Linked DNA regions of Homo sapiens: region 2 is linked to region 1. A link means that fine-mapping ties the variant in region 1 to the expression of a gene that starts in the linked region. Tissue or cell type: tibial nerve. Region 1 holds a variant in brackets; the other region holds the start of a gene. All regions are shown on one strand. Distances are between the middles of the regions.

Region 1 (8,343 bases):
AGTGCTGAACGAAATCCTGCTTTTCTTGGGCATAAACATCTGAATTCTGGTCTCCGTTCATTCTGAGGGAGGAGCAAAGGGCTCTAAGTAGAAGAAAAACAAGTCAGAAACCTGATCAGCTGCTCCCCTCCCCAAGGCCCCTCACCCCAACCACACTCACCGAGGTTCCTCTGTCCACGCTTGGCACCAGCAGCGGGCACTGTGCCAGGCCAGGACTGGGTACCCGTGCACCAGGGAGGGCCGCCGTAGGGAACCCAGCCACCTCTCCCGGGGTGCCCAGTAGGGGGCTGGCAGCAGGAAGACCCCCACAGATCTCAACCAGCGGGACAGGGGCATCCTGGGAGTGGCATAGGGAGGGGGCACTAAGCACTCCCTGCAGGGGCAAGCACCAAAGGCAGAGGCATGGTGGCAGCTCCCCAGATAACTCCCACCCCAGCCTTAGCCCAGAGTGCCCCTCCCTCTTGTGGAATGTGCTTGGGGACAATTACAGGAAGGATACGCAGGGAACAAAAAAGTATGGCTGGGTGACTGAGACCCAACTAATCACCACTTACAATAAACAGGCTAGAACTCAGTGCCTTCAAGATGGCGTGCACAAGGCTGGGTAAGGAGGCGGTACAGAGTAAAGTACCCCAGGATTAGGGGCTGAAAGGACCCTTAAGTCATCCTATTTTACACAAGCCAAACTGAGGCTCTAGGAGGTAGGAAGATAGTAGAGGCAGAGCCAAATCTAGAACCCAGGTCTCCCCTGGGCAGTGGAGAGGGGTGCCCAGGGTCTGAGTTACGCCCCAAGGAGGAAAGAAGCATTGGAGCGAGAACCCATGGGTGCTGCATCCATATGGTCCGGGGTGCTTGAACCGCGCGTCCCAAGCCCCACAGGAATCGCTAGGACTGAGCAGATAGGCTCGGAGCAACTCTGGACGGGAGAGAAGGGCTCGCAGCAAAGGAGTAAACCGGGGTCCGGGCATATTGGGGATTCCAGGAAAGCACAAGGGCAGAGTTGGGAAGTCTCCACACCCCTAGAAGGCCAGCCAGTCTAGCCCACCGACCTTCAAAACGGACACAACAGGCTGGCCTTCCGATGCCTCACAGTATCGTTACAGAAGTAAGGCCCGGTCTCGGCCCCCTTCCTCCAAGGCCCAGCACACATCCTCTCTCACCTGTTCCCAGATACGGATTCCTGCTCGGTCCCGCTTGTTGGCGGGTACTCCTAAAAGCAGAATCCGCTCCGCGATCGGCTCTGTGGGTCGAGTAGTTCCCGCTCTCCCCACACTAAGGGCGGAAATATATAATTAGACTACAACTCCCAATGTGCCCGCGGGAGGGACAGATAACGCGATCCTGCGTGTCCTGGCTGGGCGAAGATGAGCCGCGCTGATTGGCTGCTGGCCGTCGTGTGAGCATGGCGCACTGTGGCACTGTGACGGACGACCAATGGAAGGGCTGAAGTCTAGAGGTCGCGGCTGGAGGCGTCAGTGCCGGAAGCGAGCCAGGCTGGGAACGTCCCCGCTGTGGCTTTGGCTGCCTGTCTTACTCAAGTTTTCATTATCTTCCTGGGCAGCTGATTGGCACGTTAGTAAAACGCAGCAGGACTAGCTTTCTCACTTATTAGTTCTCTAACTTTAGGCAAATCATTTAACGTCTCTGATCCTCAGTGAACTTGCTTGAAACTAGCTTTCCTCATCTGTTGAATGAGGGTGGTAATACCATGAGGTAATGTGTGCAAAGTGCTTTAAGGGCTTAAGAAAGATGAGTCTTGGGCCGGGCACGGTGGCTCACGCCTGTAATCCCAGCACTTTGGGAGGCCGAGGCGGGTGGATCATGAGGTCAGGAGTTCGAGACCAGCCTGACCAATGTGGTGAAACCCCGTCTCTACTAAAAATACAAAAAAAAAAAATTAGTCGGGCGTGGTGGCGCGCGCCTGTAATCCCAGCCACTCAGGAGGGCTGAGGCGGGAGAATCGCTTGAACTCGTAAGGCAGAGGTTGCAGTGAGCTGAGATCCAGCGAACCACTGCACTCTAGCTGGGGAGACAGAGCAAGACTCCGTCTCAAAAAAAAAAAAAAAAAAAGATGAGTCTCACACTTGTAATTCCAGCACTTTGGGCGGATCACCTGCGGTCAGGAATCTGAGACCAGCCTGGTCAACATGGCAAAACCCCTTCTCTACTAAAAATACAAAAATTACCCAGGTGTGCTGGTCCGCGCCTTAATTCCAGCTACGTGGGAGGCTGCAACCTCGCTTCCCGGGTTCAAGTGATTCTCCTGGATTACAGGTGCCTGCCAGCATGCCCAGCTAATTTTTGTGTTTTTAGTAGAGAGGGGGTTTCTCCAGATTGGCCAGCCTGGTCTCGAACTCCTGACCTCAAGTGATCCAGCCACCTCGACCTCTGAAAGTGCTGGGATTACAAGTACGAGCCACTTGGCCCAGGCAGTTATTTATTGATTATAAGCTAAACAAGGGTTGGATTATTCATGCCTCTGCTTTGTAGACCATATACAGTTAACTCCCTGATGTCGACACAGCATGTGGTAGGAGTATAGCGTTGAAGACCACCAGAGGTCACTCTTGTTGCCATCTTGGTTTTGGTAGGTTTTGGCCAGTTTCTTTACTGCAATCTGTTTTATCAGCAAGGTCTTTATGACCTGTATCTTGAGCCAATCTCCTATCTCATCCTGTGACTTAGAATGCCTAAACCAACTGGAAATGCAGTCCAGTAGGTCTCAGCCTTATTCTACCCAGTCCCTATTCAAGATGGAGTTGCTCTGGTTCACGCACCTCTGACAATTATGCTAAGTGAAATAAGCCAGACTCAAAAGGACAGATACTGTATGATTCCGTGTATATAAGGTACTGTCACCGGTGGAGGGTGTCCAGGTTCTTGGCATCTTGAACAAAGAATTGGACAAAACACGGCTGGGTGCAGTGGCTCACGCCTGTAATCCCAGAGCTTTGGGAGGCCAAGGTGGGCGGATCACGAGGTCAGGAGTTCAAGACCAGCCTGGCCAACATAGTGAAACCCCATCTCTACTAAAAAATCCAAAATTAGCCCAGCATGGTGGCGCACACCTGTAGTGCCAGCTACTCGAGAAGCTGAGGCAGGAGAATCGCTTGAACCCGGGAGGCAGAGGTTGTGGTGAACCGAGATCGCTCCGGGAGGAATGAAACAGGAGGAATGAACAACTCCAGATGCGCGGCCTTAACAGCTGTAACACTCACCGCGAAGGTCTGCAGCTTCACTCATGAGCCAGCAAGACCACGAACCCACCAGAAGGAAAAAACTCCGAACACATCTGAACATCAGAAGGAACAAACTCCGGACACACCACCTTTAAGAACTGTAACACTCACTGCGAGGGTCCGCGGCTTCATTCTTGAAGTCAGTGAGACCAAGAACCCACCAATTCCGGATACATAAATCTGCATGTGTGAGTGTGGATATTGTGTGAGTGTTAGAGTGGAGTACGTATTTGTGTGTGTGTGTGGAATGGTGGGGAGCTTTGTGTATGTTTACGTGTGTGTATGTGTCTGACCAGGGGGCACCTCGTCTGTTAAGCTGCCCTGACCTCCTTCTGCCCTCACTCACAATGCTCTGTCTCTCCTGGTGTCCCTCTGTGTGCTGAGCACAGTTCTGTCAGTGCCCCCCGACTTCCTTTATTAAACCTGACTGGCCTCGCTCCTGTCTCCATCCCCACACTGAGCAGAGACCTGGGCCCAGTGGCCTCACCTCCTCCAGTCTGGCATGCGTCGGGGCACGGCCCATATGGGGGTTCAGTCCATGCCTGTGGAATGAAAAGCCACCTGCGTTTGTGTCTGTGCATGTGTGAGTGTGGCTGTTGGAGCATGTGTGTTTGTGGCAGGAGGGAGGGCTCTCAACTGACAAAGCTGAGTGTTGTGTTTGGATGCTGGGCTTCTGTTTCTCACCCACAGGCCTCTTGCTCAGGGATGATCCTGTGACAAAGTGCAGACCATGCTTCATGTGGTCACTTGTGGACCAGGGTCAGCCAGACTGCTGAGGAAACTGGCCTGATTTCAGGTCAAAGTGTCTGTCCCTTAGCTGGACAGGACACGGGCTGCTTTGGAGAACTGCCCCCCACCTCCTGCTAATCCCTTGGGACTGGGATATCTGGGATTCCTATCCTCCCAACTGGTTCTGGAGTCAGTTCAATATTGCCAGACCACAGCTGGGC[G/A]TGGTGGCTCATGCCTGTAATTCCAGTACTTTGGGAAGTGAAGGCGGGTAGATCACTTGAGCCCAGGAGTTCTGCACCAGCCTGGACAACGTGGTGAAACTCCATCTCTACAGAAAATACCAAAAAAAAAAAAAAAAAAATTAGCTGGGCATTGTGGTGCGTGCCTGTAGTCCCGACTCCTTGGGACGTTGAGGTGGGAGGATCACCTGAGCCCAGGAGATTGAGACTGCAGTGAGCAGAGATCATGATACTGCATTCCAGCCTGGGCTACAGAGGAAGGCCCTGTATCAAAAACAAAGTAATGCCAGACCATCCTTAAAGTCCCATGTCTCTGCCAACACCACAAGCACAAGGCCTGAATCCCCAGTCCCTGAAGTCTGCCACATTCTCTGTGGGTACAAATTTTGTCTCTCTTTATTTGTTGTGTCTTCTATATACAGAAAGATGAGGCCCCATGCTCATTTCCCTCCGGAAGTCCTCTCTACTATCTCTCTCTTTCTTTTCCAACTCCAGAGTCAGAGACTTCTCCCTTTCCCACCCACTGAAACAGTCCCAAGGGGCAGGCATGGAGCTTAGTGGTTACAGCTCGGGCTCTGGAGCTCCACTATCTGGGCCTGAATCCCAGCTCCACTCCTGACAAGACTTTTTGCATCAGACAAGTGTATTCGGTAGGGTTTCTTCAGGAAATAAAGAATTCTCTTAAATGGGATAATTTGAAGGTGTTTCATAACAGGATTATACAAAGGAATGGGCAGGGTGTTGGTAAACCACAACGGATAGTGCATTACCCCAGATCTAATAACAGTGGGCTTTGTTACCCCTGTAAGGTCCAAGGGATAGGGAGAGAATGGTCCCTAGAATGGCAACTGGGGAGGTAAATGCTCAACCTCACCCTCTCCATCTCATCTCCTATGGGTGCCACTCTCCAAACCCTACAGACGCCACTGTGCAAAGCCGTCAGCCTCCTGGCCCCACAGCAGAGTGGAAAAGGAACACACCTTGCTACGGCCCAGTTCCCTCATCTGTAAAACAGCCTGTTGATCCTACCTTCTTTCTAGGTTGTCACAATGATAAAAGGAGATGGTGTCCATGAGGCATGAATGCTGTTCCAGCACACAGGAAGTGTGCTCGATGAACAGCTCCAACTGTCTGACTATGGATTTTAATGATTAACTGGCTTCTCAAATTTAGCCTGTCAAAACAGAAAGCTTGAATTTCCCCCTACTTCAAACCTATTTCTTCCGTAGTCTCAGTTAGTGGCGCTACCATCTACCCAACTGCTCAAGCCAGACTCCTCGACACTAGAAGCCGCCCTCTCCACGGCTGTTTTGCCGTTCCACTCTGCTGGCTCTTCTCCAAAATGCATCTCCAAGCCGTCCCCCTCTCTTCGTCTTCACTGCCAACATGCTAGTCCATCACCTACCACCTAGATTCTTCCTAAGCCCGCAGTAGTTCTGCCTGTACCTACCATCTGTTCTTTTTTTTTTTTTTTTTTTTTTTTTGAGACGCAGTTTTGCTCTTGTTGCCCAGGCTGGTGTGCAATGGCATGATCTCGGCTCACTGCAACCTCTGCCTCCCGGATTCAAGTGATTCTCCTGCCTCAGCCTCCCAAGTAGCTGGGATTACAGGCACGCACCACCACACCTGGCTAATTTTTTGTGTTTTTAGTAGAGACGAGGTTTTACCGTGTTAGCCAGGCTGGTCTCAAACTCCTGACCTCAGGTGATCCGCCTGCCTTGGCCTCCCAAAGTGCTGGGATTACAGACGTGAGCCACCGCTCCCGGCTACCATCTATTCTTTACCCAGCAGCGGGAGGGACCTAAACCATCAGTTGGATCATGTCCATCCCCTGGGTAAACCCACCACATTACAAGATCCTGCTCAGGTCCCCTATCTTCACTATGGGCCACGACCCTGCACTCCAGGCACTCAGCCTCATTGCAGCTCTTTGTCTCCTTGGCACCAAGCTTTTTCTTCCTCAGAGCCTTGGCATATATTATTTCTGCCCCCGCCCCGCCGCCATGGAAAACCCCTTTCTCCATTTGCCCCCACCGGTTCCTTCTCATCCTTCAAATTTCAGCTTCAAAATAATCACTTCAAAGAGGCCTTCCTCAACCATCTCATCTTGTCTAAAATATATCCTCTAGGTCAGGCATGGTGGCGTGCACCTGTAATCCCAGCTACTCAGGAAGCTGAGGCATGAGAATTGCTTGAACCCAGGAGGCAGAGGTGGCAGTGAGCTGAGATCGTGCCACTGCACTCCAGCCTAGGTGACAAGAGTGAAACTCCGCTTCCAAAAAAATAAATAAATAAAATAAAATACACCCTCTCTCTTCTCCCACTGGCTTCTGTGTTCCAGCACCCTGATCCACTACTTAGTAGCACTTGCAAGGTTTGTAGTTACATATTTATTTCTCTGATACTTGTTGATAGTCTGTCTCCCCACTATACTGTAAATCTCACAGAGGGCAAAGGCCCTGTCTGTTTTGCTCACTACTGTGTCCTTAGGGCCTGATACAGCGTAGGTGCTCGATAAAGATTGGACAGTGGGGAATGGGCAAATGGTAACTAATGAATGCTATGATGATGATGATGCTATCAAAGCCCTTCCAGAGAATCCCACCAGTTAGTATCAGCTGAACCCACAGCTAGTGTCACACCAAAAGTGGCATCAGGGCAGCACTCACAAAGGATGCCCCAAACCATCCCAAGATGGGGCTGGTTGGGATTCCAGTGAATGAAGCACTAAATGCCAGGGCAATCAGGCCAAAGCATACATTAGGGGAACTTACCTACAGAACAGCTACTGCACATCCTTGCTGTGGACAATGGGACAAAGGGTGTTCTACCCAGGTATGTTCTCAAGGAGGGGTTCGGGGTATGGTGTTTATAGGAGTGTTTAAGAAATTTGAAGCCAGTACTATGGCTCACACTTGTAATCCTGGCATTTTGGGAGACCAAGGCAGGAGGACCACTTGAGCATAGGTGTTCAAGACCAACCTGGGCAACAGAGTGACACCAGTCTCTACAAAAATAAAAAGTCAGCACCTGTGGAAAGAAAGGAAAAAAATATTTTTAATAAATAAAAATTTAAAAAGTAGCCAGGCATGGTGGTGCACACCTGTAGTACTGGCTACTTGGGAGGCTGAGGTGGGAGGATCGTTGGAGCCCAGGAAGTCAAGGCTACAGTGAGCCATGATCACACGAGTGCACTCCAGCCAGGGTGACAGAGTGAGACCCTTTAAAAAAAAAAGAAAGAAAACAAGGCTGGGCATGATGGCTCACACCTGTAATCCCACCAGTTTGAGAGGCCGAGGCTGGTGGATACTTGAGGCCAGGAGTTGGAGACCAGCCTGGACAACATGGTGAAACCCCATCTTTACTAAAAATACAAAAATTAGGCCAGGCACAGTGGCTCACACCTGTAATCCCAGCACTTTGGGAAGCTGTGGCGGGCAGATCACCTGAGGTCAGGAGTTCGAGACCAGCCTGACCAACATGGTGAAACCCCGTCTCTACTAAAAATACAAAAATTAGCCAGGCGTGGTGGTGCATGCCTGTAATCCCAGCTACTCAGGAGGCTGAGACAGGATAATCGCTTGAACCCAGGAGGCAGAAGTTGCAGTGAGCCAAGATCACGCCACTGCACTCCAACCTGGGCAACAGAGTCAGACTCAGTCTCAAAAAAAAAAAAAAAAAGAAAAGAAAAGAAAAAAGAAAAACAAAATTAGCTGGGTGTGGTGGTGCACGTCTGTAATCCCAGCTACTCGGTAGGCTGAGGCAGGAGGATCGCAGAGGTTGCAATGAACTGAGATTGCGCCACTGCACTCCAGCCTGGGCGACAGAGTGAGACTCTGTGAAAAAAAAAAGAAAAAAAAGAAAAAAGAAAAAGAAAAAAGGAAGGAAGGGAGGGAGGAAAGAAAATTTCCCTGGGGGTAGGAGTCTATAAGTTTAGCAAAATAGTCGATCTTTCAGTGTTTCCAGCAACAACCTAATCAAGTTTATCAGTGTCTGAGAATGTTCAAGGTACCATCTTGGGTTCAAACATGTAGGCGAAAACATGCAGCTGGCCAGGTTACAGAGTGGTGAAGGCACTCTGCATTTCTTGGTTGAGACAGAGAAAAAAAGTGGTCAGAACTGGGTAACCCTCCCCC
Region 2 (8,000 bases), 29 kb after region 1:
GTGAAACCCCATCTCTACTAAAAAAATACAAAAAATTAGCTGGGCATGGTGGCGGGCGCCCGTAGTCCCAGCTACTCAGGAGGCTGAGGAAGGAGAATGGCGTGAACCCGGGAGGCGGAGCTTGCAGTGAGCCGAGATTGTGCCACTGCACTCCAGCCTGGGCGACAGAGCGAGACTCCGTCTCAAAAAAAAAAAAAAAAAATTAGCCAGGTGTGGTGGCGCGCACCTGTAATCCCAATCCCAGATATTCAGGAGGCCAAGGCAGGAGAATTGCTTGAACCTGGGAGTGAAGGTTGCCGTGAGCTGAAACCGCTCCACTGCCCTCTAGCCTGGGCGAGAGTGAGACTCTGTCTCAAAATAAATAAATAAATAAAATAAATAAATAAATAAAAATTTGCCGGTGTGGTGGCTCACACCTGTAATCCCAGCACTTTGGGAGGCTGAGGTGGGTGGATCACGAGGTCAAGTGTTCGAGACCAGCCTGGACAAAATGGTGAAACCCCACGTCTACTAAAAATACAAAAATTAGCCAGGCGTGGTGGCATGCGCTTGTAATCTCAGCTACTCAGGAGGCTGATGCAGAAGAATCGCTTGAACCCGGGAGGCGGAGGTTGCAGTGAGCCAAAATTGTGCCATTGCACTCCAGCCTGGGCGACACAGTGAGACTCCTTCTCAAAATAAATAAACAAATATAAAAATAAATAAATAAATAAATAAAATTACTCTTCCATCTACATACATATCCCTACTATATATCATTTACCTCACCATTGCTAAATATTTTTAAGGTTAAAAAAAAAAGCTAAAGTATCCTGTGCTAATCTCACAGCATTGCTGAAAACATTTACATGGAGACAATAGATGTGACAGTGTGGTACAGGCACTAGTTGGTATTATGACTCACTCACTCTTTATCCCCAGATTTCTGAAAAGGCTGCTGCTTCCCCCATCTCCAGTTATCTGCCCATTCTAGTCTAGGACCTCATGCCCTCCCCAGCCTTCTCCACCCCATTCCTCTTCTCCAACACAGTTGGACCCACGGATCCTGTTCCTCTGCTGAGGTTTGCTCATCCATGTCTCAGGGTGGGGTGGTCTATCCTGCCTTCCTCTGAATTGAGCTTTCCAGGGATGCCCTTCCCCCTCCACAGAACCTCAAACAGGGCTGCACACACAGAGAAGCTCCACAGGAGATCATGAAGCAGCAAGGCTTGAGTTCTGCATACCTTTCCTCCTCTGGCCTCCCTGTGTCCACTGGGACTCTGGCTGAGCACAGGCAGAGGCATGGGCAGGGGTGAGTGACATTGCTGTGGCAGACACCGTGGAAAGAAGAGGTCAAGAGGGAACTGTGTGAAGCCCTCATTCAGAGAATGGCACAGGAAAATCTCAGGGACTCAGTTACCTATGGTGGTTTTAATTCTAGGACACACCTAATCCCAGTGTCAACTCAGGAGCTAGCCCCTTCTGACTCGGACTGCAAAATCAATTTTCAGCCCTGAAAGAAACTTCCTCAAGTCCGGGCCTCTGGGAAGCCCCTTAGACTGTATGTTTTCAATAAACAAAAACCCTCGGCCATTCTTCTTTTCTCTCCTCGGCTGCTGAGGAGGAATCCTGTATTGTGAGACACTAAGAGAGGGGAGGGAAAGAGGGTTCGCCTAGCCATGAAAGCATCTTCACAGCCTGACTCACAGGTGGGTCACAAGCCTGGCGGGTGATGTAGTATAGAGAATGGAGAAGCACAATCAGAGGGATACCAGGCTTCTGGGGATCCGTCTGCGAGTGAACTGAGGGAAGAGAGTGAGATCCACAGGAGACTAGAAAAGGCGCACTGGCTGGGTGGGAACGAGGCAGCAAAGACAGGAGTGAAAGGAACAATGGGAGGAAGAGAGACATAGAGGGAGTGTGTATATATGTGGATTCAAGATAATGTCTGGGTCTACAACTGTATTTCGAGGCTCCAGATTCACACCTCTTCCTCTCTGCTTCTTTAGTTCCCCAGGTTAGGTGCTTTGCACACATCCCTGCCTCATCCAAGAGCTGTCCTTCATTTCCCCCAAGGACAGGGCTGCTGTCTTCCCCTAGCGACCTTGATGTAGAGGTACACCCTGACGGAGACTGTGAAATGGCCCCACCCCCACCCTCTGTTCCTTCTCTGGGAGTCACCTGGGTGGTGGTCCTGCCCCTGCTTTGCCGCCTCAGTCACTCTGAGTCTCGGCCCCGCCCCGCCGCCCCCGCCTTCAGCACTAGGGACAGCGACCAGAGCTGAGGTCTGGACCCCCCGCCCCCTTCAGCGTCCCTATTTTTCCTGGTAGTCTGTCATGCTGAACTAGGCAGGTGCTAAGGAGCGGGTGTGGGGATGGGAGATGGCGGAGCTCGGCTTCTCCCTCAGACTGGCCCCGATACTTAGAATATAATTTCCTAGATCTCCAGCAAGCAGGACTGGAGGAGGCAGGGGTCCCAAACTCTGGTAGTTCCTTTGGTCCGGATGGGGTCCCGGGTTCCTGAAAGAGGAAATCCAGGTCTCTGGAGATCCCCTGATGTCTGCTTGCCCCTTCTGGTGCCCCCAGCCTGTCCAGGCACGGAGGACCTCCGGCAGGGGATACCCGCCCAGGAATTCCCAGGCTAGACTGGTGCAAGTGACTCTCCCGCCCCACCAAGGGACCCCGGGCTGGAAATGAAGTGACCGTGGAGGGTGGGGCGGGCCGGGTCCCGGTGTCGCTGCCCGCGAGGGTGGGATTGATGTACCCTGCCCTCCCCGCCAAGCCCCCAATACCGGAAGTCGCTGTAGGGGTGGATGATCCAGGCCCCCGCTGACTTCACCCGCTCCTGCTCGATTTCCACTGCTTTGTGGCTGCCGAACACCCGAAGGGAGAACTTGTTGACCGTAGGCTGGAGCAGCGTCCCAAGGTGCCTCCTCTTAGGCTCAGGCCCAGATTTGGGGATCGGACCTGAGGCCGCGGTCGCAGGCGGGGGAGCAACGGGAGGCACCGCCTCCAGTCCAGGGGTCGCCCCTTCGCTGGCCCCCGCCGCCGGCCGCTGCTCTGCCTCCATGGCGCCCACCCCGCTTACACGCTCGGCCTCCTAGAGCCCTCTGTGGCCATCAGGTACCCGCAACCCCTCCAGAGCAGGAGTCGGCGCAGCCCCGCGGGCTCTAGCGGAGGCGTCGTAGGCTCGGAATCGCCGGCGCGCGGGGCGGAGGGGGTGTGTGCTAGACTGGCGGGCGGCGGGCGGGCTGCGCGGCGCCCCCTGGCGAGGGCCGCGCCAAGACCGGGCGGGGCTGGGACGCCGGGATCCTGGAGGAACTCCGAGAGGGGCGTGGCTTAGCAAAGAAGGCGGGGAGCGCAGCCTGAGCCAGGGAGAGGGCGTGGCCTAGCGTTGGCCTTTCATCCACTGAGAACCAGGGAGGAGGAGCCCCCTGCAGTGGCGGGAAAATCGGACGCGGGTTTGTAGCTTGAAGGACTTGGGAGGGAGAGGGATTGGGGACCAATGGAAGAAGTGGAAATGGCTTTTGGGATTCTTCTCCACTCTCGCCCAGGGACTTCTGTCCTGCTCCCGTCTTCTCTCAACACTGTCCTAGGCATATTCTTGTCTTTTGGTCTCCTCCGAACTGCTTCCCCTAGTATTTAATTTCCTAATTCATTCTGTCAGCCTTCACCAAGTGCAACTCTGCCTGTCATTGAGTGGATGCTGAGGAAACAAAAATGAATACAAAAGTCCTAGTCTTAGCATCTCCATGTAGTAATGGAAAACAACACAAAACAAAACAAAAACAAAGGCCTAGCCATAAAGCCACTGCTCATCTGTGCCCAACGACAGACAGGTAAATTGCAGTGCTATGCGAAGTGCTACAAATTCCTAAATATCTCAAATTCTCCCCTTCATCTCCAATTCTTATTACCACTGCCTCATTTCAAGCCCTCAGCATTTTTTCACTTAAATTACTTCGGAAACCTCTAAAAGAGTCTTCAACCTCTTCCAGGCCAATTCTTCTTCCATTCCCTGCCAGTTACCTTCCTAAAATCCAACTATGGCTGTGTCACTTGCTTGAAGCCCATCAAGCTTTCCCATCTTCTACAGGGGTACATTTAAGCTGCTTAGCATGGTGTACCAGGCCCAAAAAATTTGGACCTAGTTTCAACAGTCTCTCTTCTGACAGTCCCTCTCTTGAAAGCCACAGCCCCAATCATGCTGAAAGACTTTGTGCTGCCTTGTCTCTATGCTTTTGCAAATATTTTCTCTGCCTGGTATTCTCCTCCAATTCACTTTCGAACAGTTGGTTCAGATCTTGCTTTCTCTAGGAAACCTAGGAACACATTTCCAACTCTCCTTTCCTCAGGTAGGGTCTATTCTAGAGCTTTTTTACAGCAGCCAGGGCACCACTGTTTTGAGCAACTCATGTCACAGGGCTACCATTATTATTATTATTTTAGAGATGAGGTCACACTATGTTGCCCAGGCTGGTTTTGAACTCAGAGCTCAAGTGATCTTCCTGCCTTGGCTTCCCAAAGTGCTAGGATTACAGGCATGAGCATGGTCTCATTATTTATTTACAGATTTTCTCTCCTGTTAGATTGTGAAACTCTGAGAAACAGGAACCTTGCACCTGGCATAATTCTGGACACATAGTGGACATTCAGTAAATGCTTGTTGAATGAATTAATAATCTAGGAAAATGTTCCAGGAGGTGGAAGTGAAATCTTTACTTCTCTCTCCCCGACTCCTTCATTGATTGCTCTCCATGTTCTATTCCAGGGAACTTCTCTAAACTATGTCTGGTTATCTGATCTAACCTCCATCTGACCATCCTTCATCCAGCTCCTCTCTAATATTTCCTGACTTTATTTATTTACTCATTCTAGAGTCAGGGTCTTGCTCTGTTGCTCAAGCTGGAGTGCAGTGGTGTGATCATGACCCACTGCAGCCTCAAAGCAATCTTCCCACCTCAGTTTCCTGAGTAGCTGGGACTACAGGTGTGAGCCACCTTGCTCAGCTCCCTGACTTTAATATCGTTATTCTCAGATTATATTATTTCTCTTTCAATTGACCTTTCTGACCACTTCTCAATTCCTTCTGTAAAGTCTCTAACTCTTTCTCTTTCTCATTTTCTTTTTTTCTTTTCTTTTCTTTTTTTTTTTTTTTTTTTTTTGAGATAGAGTCTCACTCTGTCGCCCAAGCTGGAGTGCAGTGGCACGATCACGGGTCACTACAGCCTCAACCTCCCCAGGCTCAGGTGATCCTCCCACCTCAGCCTCCCGAGTAGCTGGGACTACAGGTGGGAGACACCATGAATGGCTAATTTTTATTTTTTATTTTATTTTATTTTAGACACAGTCTCACTCTGTCGCCCAGGCTGGAGTGCAATGGCACCATCTCGGCTCACTGCAACCTCCACCTTCTGGATTCAAGCGATTCTCGTGCCTCAGCCTTCCAAATAGCTGGGATTACAGGCACCTGCCATCACACCCGGCTAATTTTTGTATTTTTAGTAGAGACAGGGTTTCACCAGGTTGGCCAGGCTGGTCTCGAACTCCTGTGCTCAAGTGATCCACCTTCCTGGGCCTCCAAAACTGTTGGGATTACAGGCATGAGCCACCGCGCTTGGCCTAATTTTTGTATTTTTTTTTTTTTTTTTTTTTTTTTTTTTGAGACGGAGTCTCGCTGTCGCCCAGGCTGGAGTGCAGTGGCGCAATCTCGGCTCACTGCAGGCTCCGCCCCCTGGGGTTCACGCCATTCTCCTGCCTCAGCCTCCCGAGTAGCTGGGACTACAGGCGCCCGCCACCTCGCCCGGCTAATTTTTTGTATTTTTAGTAGAGACGGGGTTTCACCGTGTTAGCCAGGATGGTCTCGATCTCCTGACCTCGTGATCCGCCCGCCTTGGCCTCCCAAAGTGCTGGGATTACAGGCGTGAGCCACCGCGCCCGGCCTTGTATTTTTTTAAGAGTCTGGGTTTTGCCCTGTTGCCCAGGCTGTCTCAAACTCCTATGCTTAAGTGATCCACCCACGTTGGCCTCCCAAAGTGTTGGTATTACAGGCGTGAGCCACCTCGCCCAGCCTTCCTGTTCTTTTTTAAGATTTAGTAAACTGGCCAAGCGCCGTGGCTGATGCTTGTAATCCCAGCACTTTGGGAGGCCGATGGGGGAGGATTGCTTGAGCTCAGGGGTTCAAGACTAGCCTGGGTAACAAAGTGAGGCACTATCTCTACAAGAAAAAAAAAAATAGCTGGGCGTGGTGATGCGCGCTTTTTTTTTTTTTTTTTTTTTTTTTTGAGACAGAGTCTCGCTCTGTCACCCAGGCTGCAGTGCAATGGCCCGATCTCGGCTCACTGCAACCTCCGCCTCCCGGGTTCAAGCGATTCTCCTACCTCAGCCTCCTGAGTAGCTGGGATTACAGGCGCCCGCCACCATGCCCGGCTAATTTTTGTATTTTTAGTAGAGACGGGATTTCACCATGTTGATCAGGCTAATCTCGAACTCCTGACCTCGTGATCCGCCCGCCTCGGCTTCCCAAAGTGTTGGGATTATAGGCGAGAGCCACCGCGCCCGGCCCTAGTAAACTTGTATTTCTCACACATTATGTAAGCCACCTTAGGATACAGTTCTCAAGTAAGTCCCCCTTTTCGGCACCCGATTCTCCAACCCTCCATTGCTCAAACCTTTCCTCCATGGCTGTGTCCCCACCCCGAGTCGTGCATAACTTTTGTTGATGACAAAAGGTGGCAGACTTTTGTCCTGGGGATAGGTAGGTGAAGTGTTTTAAGAAATGGTTATTTTCAGGCTATGCAGAAGAATGAGACTTCACCATCAAGCCTCACTACAGTCAGGCTTGCAGAGCAGCGACACTGTATTGACAATGACAATCCTTTCTTTTAAACTCCAAACCTAACTAAGCCACACGTCTCCATGCAAAGGGTAAAAGATTGAAGACGGAGTGGGAAAGGACAGGAGGCGGGGCATAGCGGGCCTGGAAGGCTTCCAGCTTGTCCCTGTGGACCCTCCTCGCCCCTATGAACTTCCGCCCCCAGTACCTCCGAGGCTCTGACAGGCGGATGCCTGCCAACTACGTGAGCACGTGGTGGCGCGCGCGGTCCTGGGGGCGGAGCCCAGGGGGTAGCTGGGAAGCGACGCAGGACGTCGGTCCGTGCGTACGTGCTCGCTCACGGCGGCGGCGGCGGAGCGGAGAGGCCAGAGCCGGAGACCGAGCTGGGATCGGGCCCCGGGCGGGGGCGGTGCGAGCGGCGCCAAGCAGATCTTAGGGGCGGGGACGGAGCCGGGGCGGGCGGGACTGAAGCGGAGCCCGGGAACGGGGCGGGAGGTCCCAGGGTCCCGGGTTGGGGGGGTGGAGCAGCATTTCGTCGCCGCGGGGGTGCCGGGACTCCGGCCGCAGTGTCGCCGCCATCACGGACTTCCTGTGGGACAAGCGCACGGGCCTCGCCGCCAGAACGGTGAGCGCGCGGGTTGGCTGGCCGCGCGAAAAGATGGCGACCGCGGGGCGGGCGGGGTTAGGCTTGGGTTGGGGGCAAGGGACGGGGGCGAGATTTGGAGAGGAGGAGAGTTGAGACCTACGAAGCGACGGAGTAGGGAGATGAGGGGGAAGGAGGTCGGCCTGCGTTAGATGTACCAAGAAGACCTGTAGGAAGCTTGGGCGGAACCAGACTAGAAGGGATGATAGAGTAAGGATGGGAGTGGTTCCAGAGATGTGAAGGAGTGGAATATCAAAGTTGGACTCGGGTCCAATCAAAGCTGGAGGGGAGGAATACATCACCGTGTCACTTGGAACATGCAGGAAGAATTTGCCTGTAGGAGTTCTGGATTTTCTGAGTAAGAAAGGAAAAAGCAAAAGATTTCAAACTTGAGAAAGGTAGGCTAGTGATGTTTTGAGGGGACAGTGCTGTGAGGCCGTTTGATGGTAGTATGTGGTGAGATGGCATTTATGTGGCTATGCTGATTAGGATAACTATGCTGGGAAAATCTTGTGCTTGCAGCTTGGTATGCTACCGGCCCCAG

Direction of the effects. Alleles are on the strand shown, and positions count from the first base shown. SD is a standard deviation of normalised expression in the study named.
For the expression in tibial nerve of the gene that starts at base 3,176 in region 2, G is the high allele of the variant in region 1 and A is the other (moderate effect, 0.57 SD a copy in GTEx).

The links. PIP is the estimated chance that this variant, and not a neighbour inherited with it, causes the effect.
Region 2: HCN3 starts here. The variant in region 1 is fine-mapped to the expression of HCN3 in tibial nerve (GTEx, PIP above 0.99).

What each region holds. Positions count from the first base shown.
Region 1 is chr1:155,301,783-155,310,125 of GRCh38, reverse strand. It overlaps FDPS (farnesyl diphosphate synthase), which reads right to left and starts at 1,260. Exons shown (of 11, transcript NM_002004.4): 1 at 1,161-1,260; 2 at 161-337; 3 at 1-83. The coding sequence starts at 336. It also overlaps a transcript of PKLR not described here. RefSeq lists enhancers at 901-1,070, 1,401-1,530, 2,433-2,502, 3,627-4,126. The variant G/A (reference allele first, on the strand shown) is at 4,190.
Region 2 is chr1:155,272,639-155,280,638 of GRCh38, reverse strand. HCN3 (hyperpolarization activated cyclic nucleotide gated potassium channel 3) reads right to left here and starts at 3,176. Exons shown (of 8, transcript NM_020897.3): 1 at 2,771-3,176. The coding sequence starts at 3,048. CLK2 (CDC like kinase 2) reads left to right here and starts at 7,135. Exons shown (of 13, transcript NM_001294338.2): 1 at 7,135-7,438. RefSeq lists an enhancer at 6,042-6,542.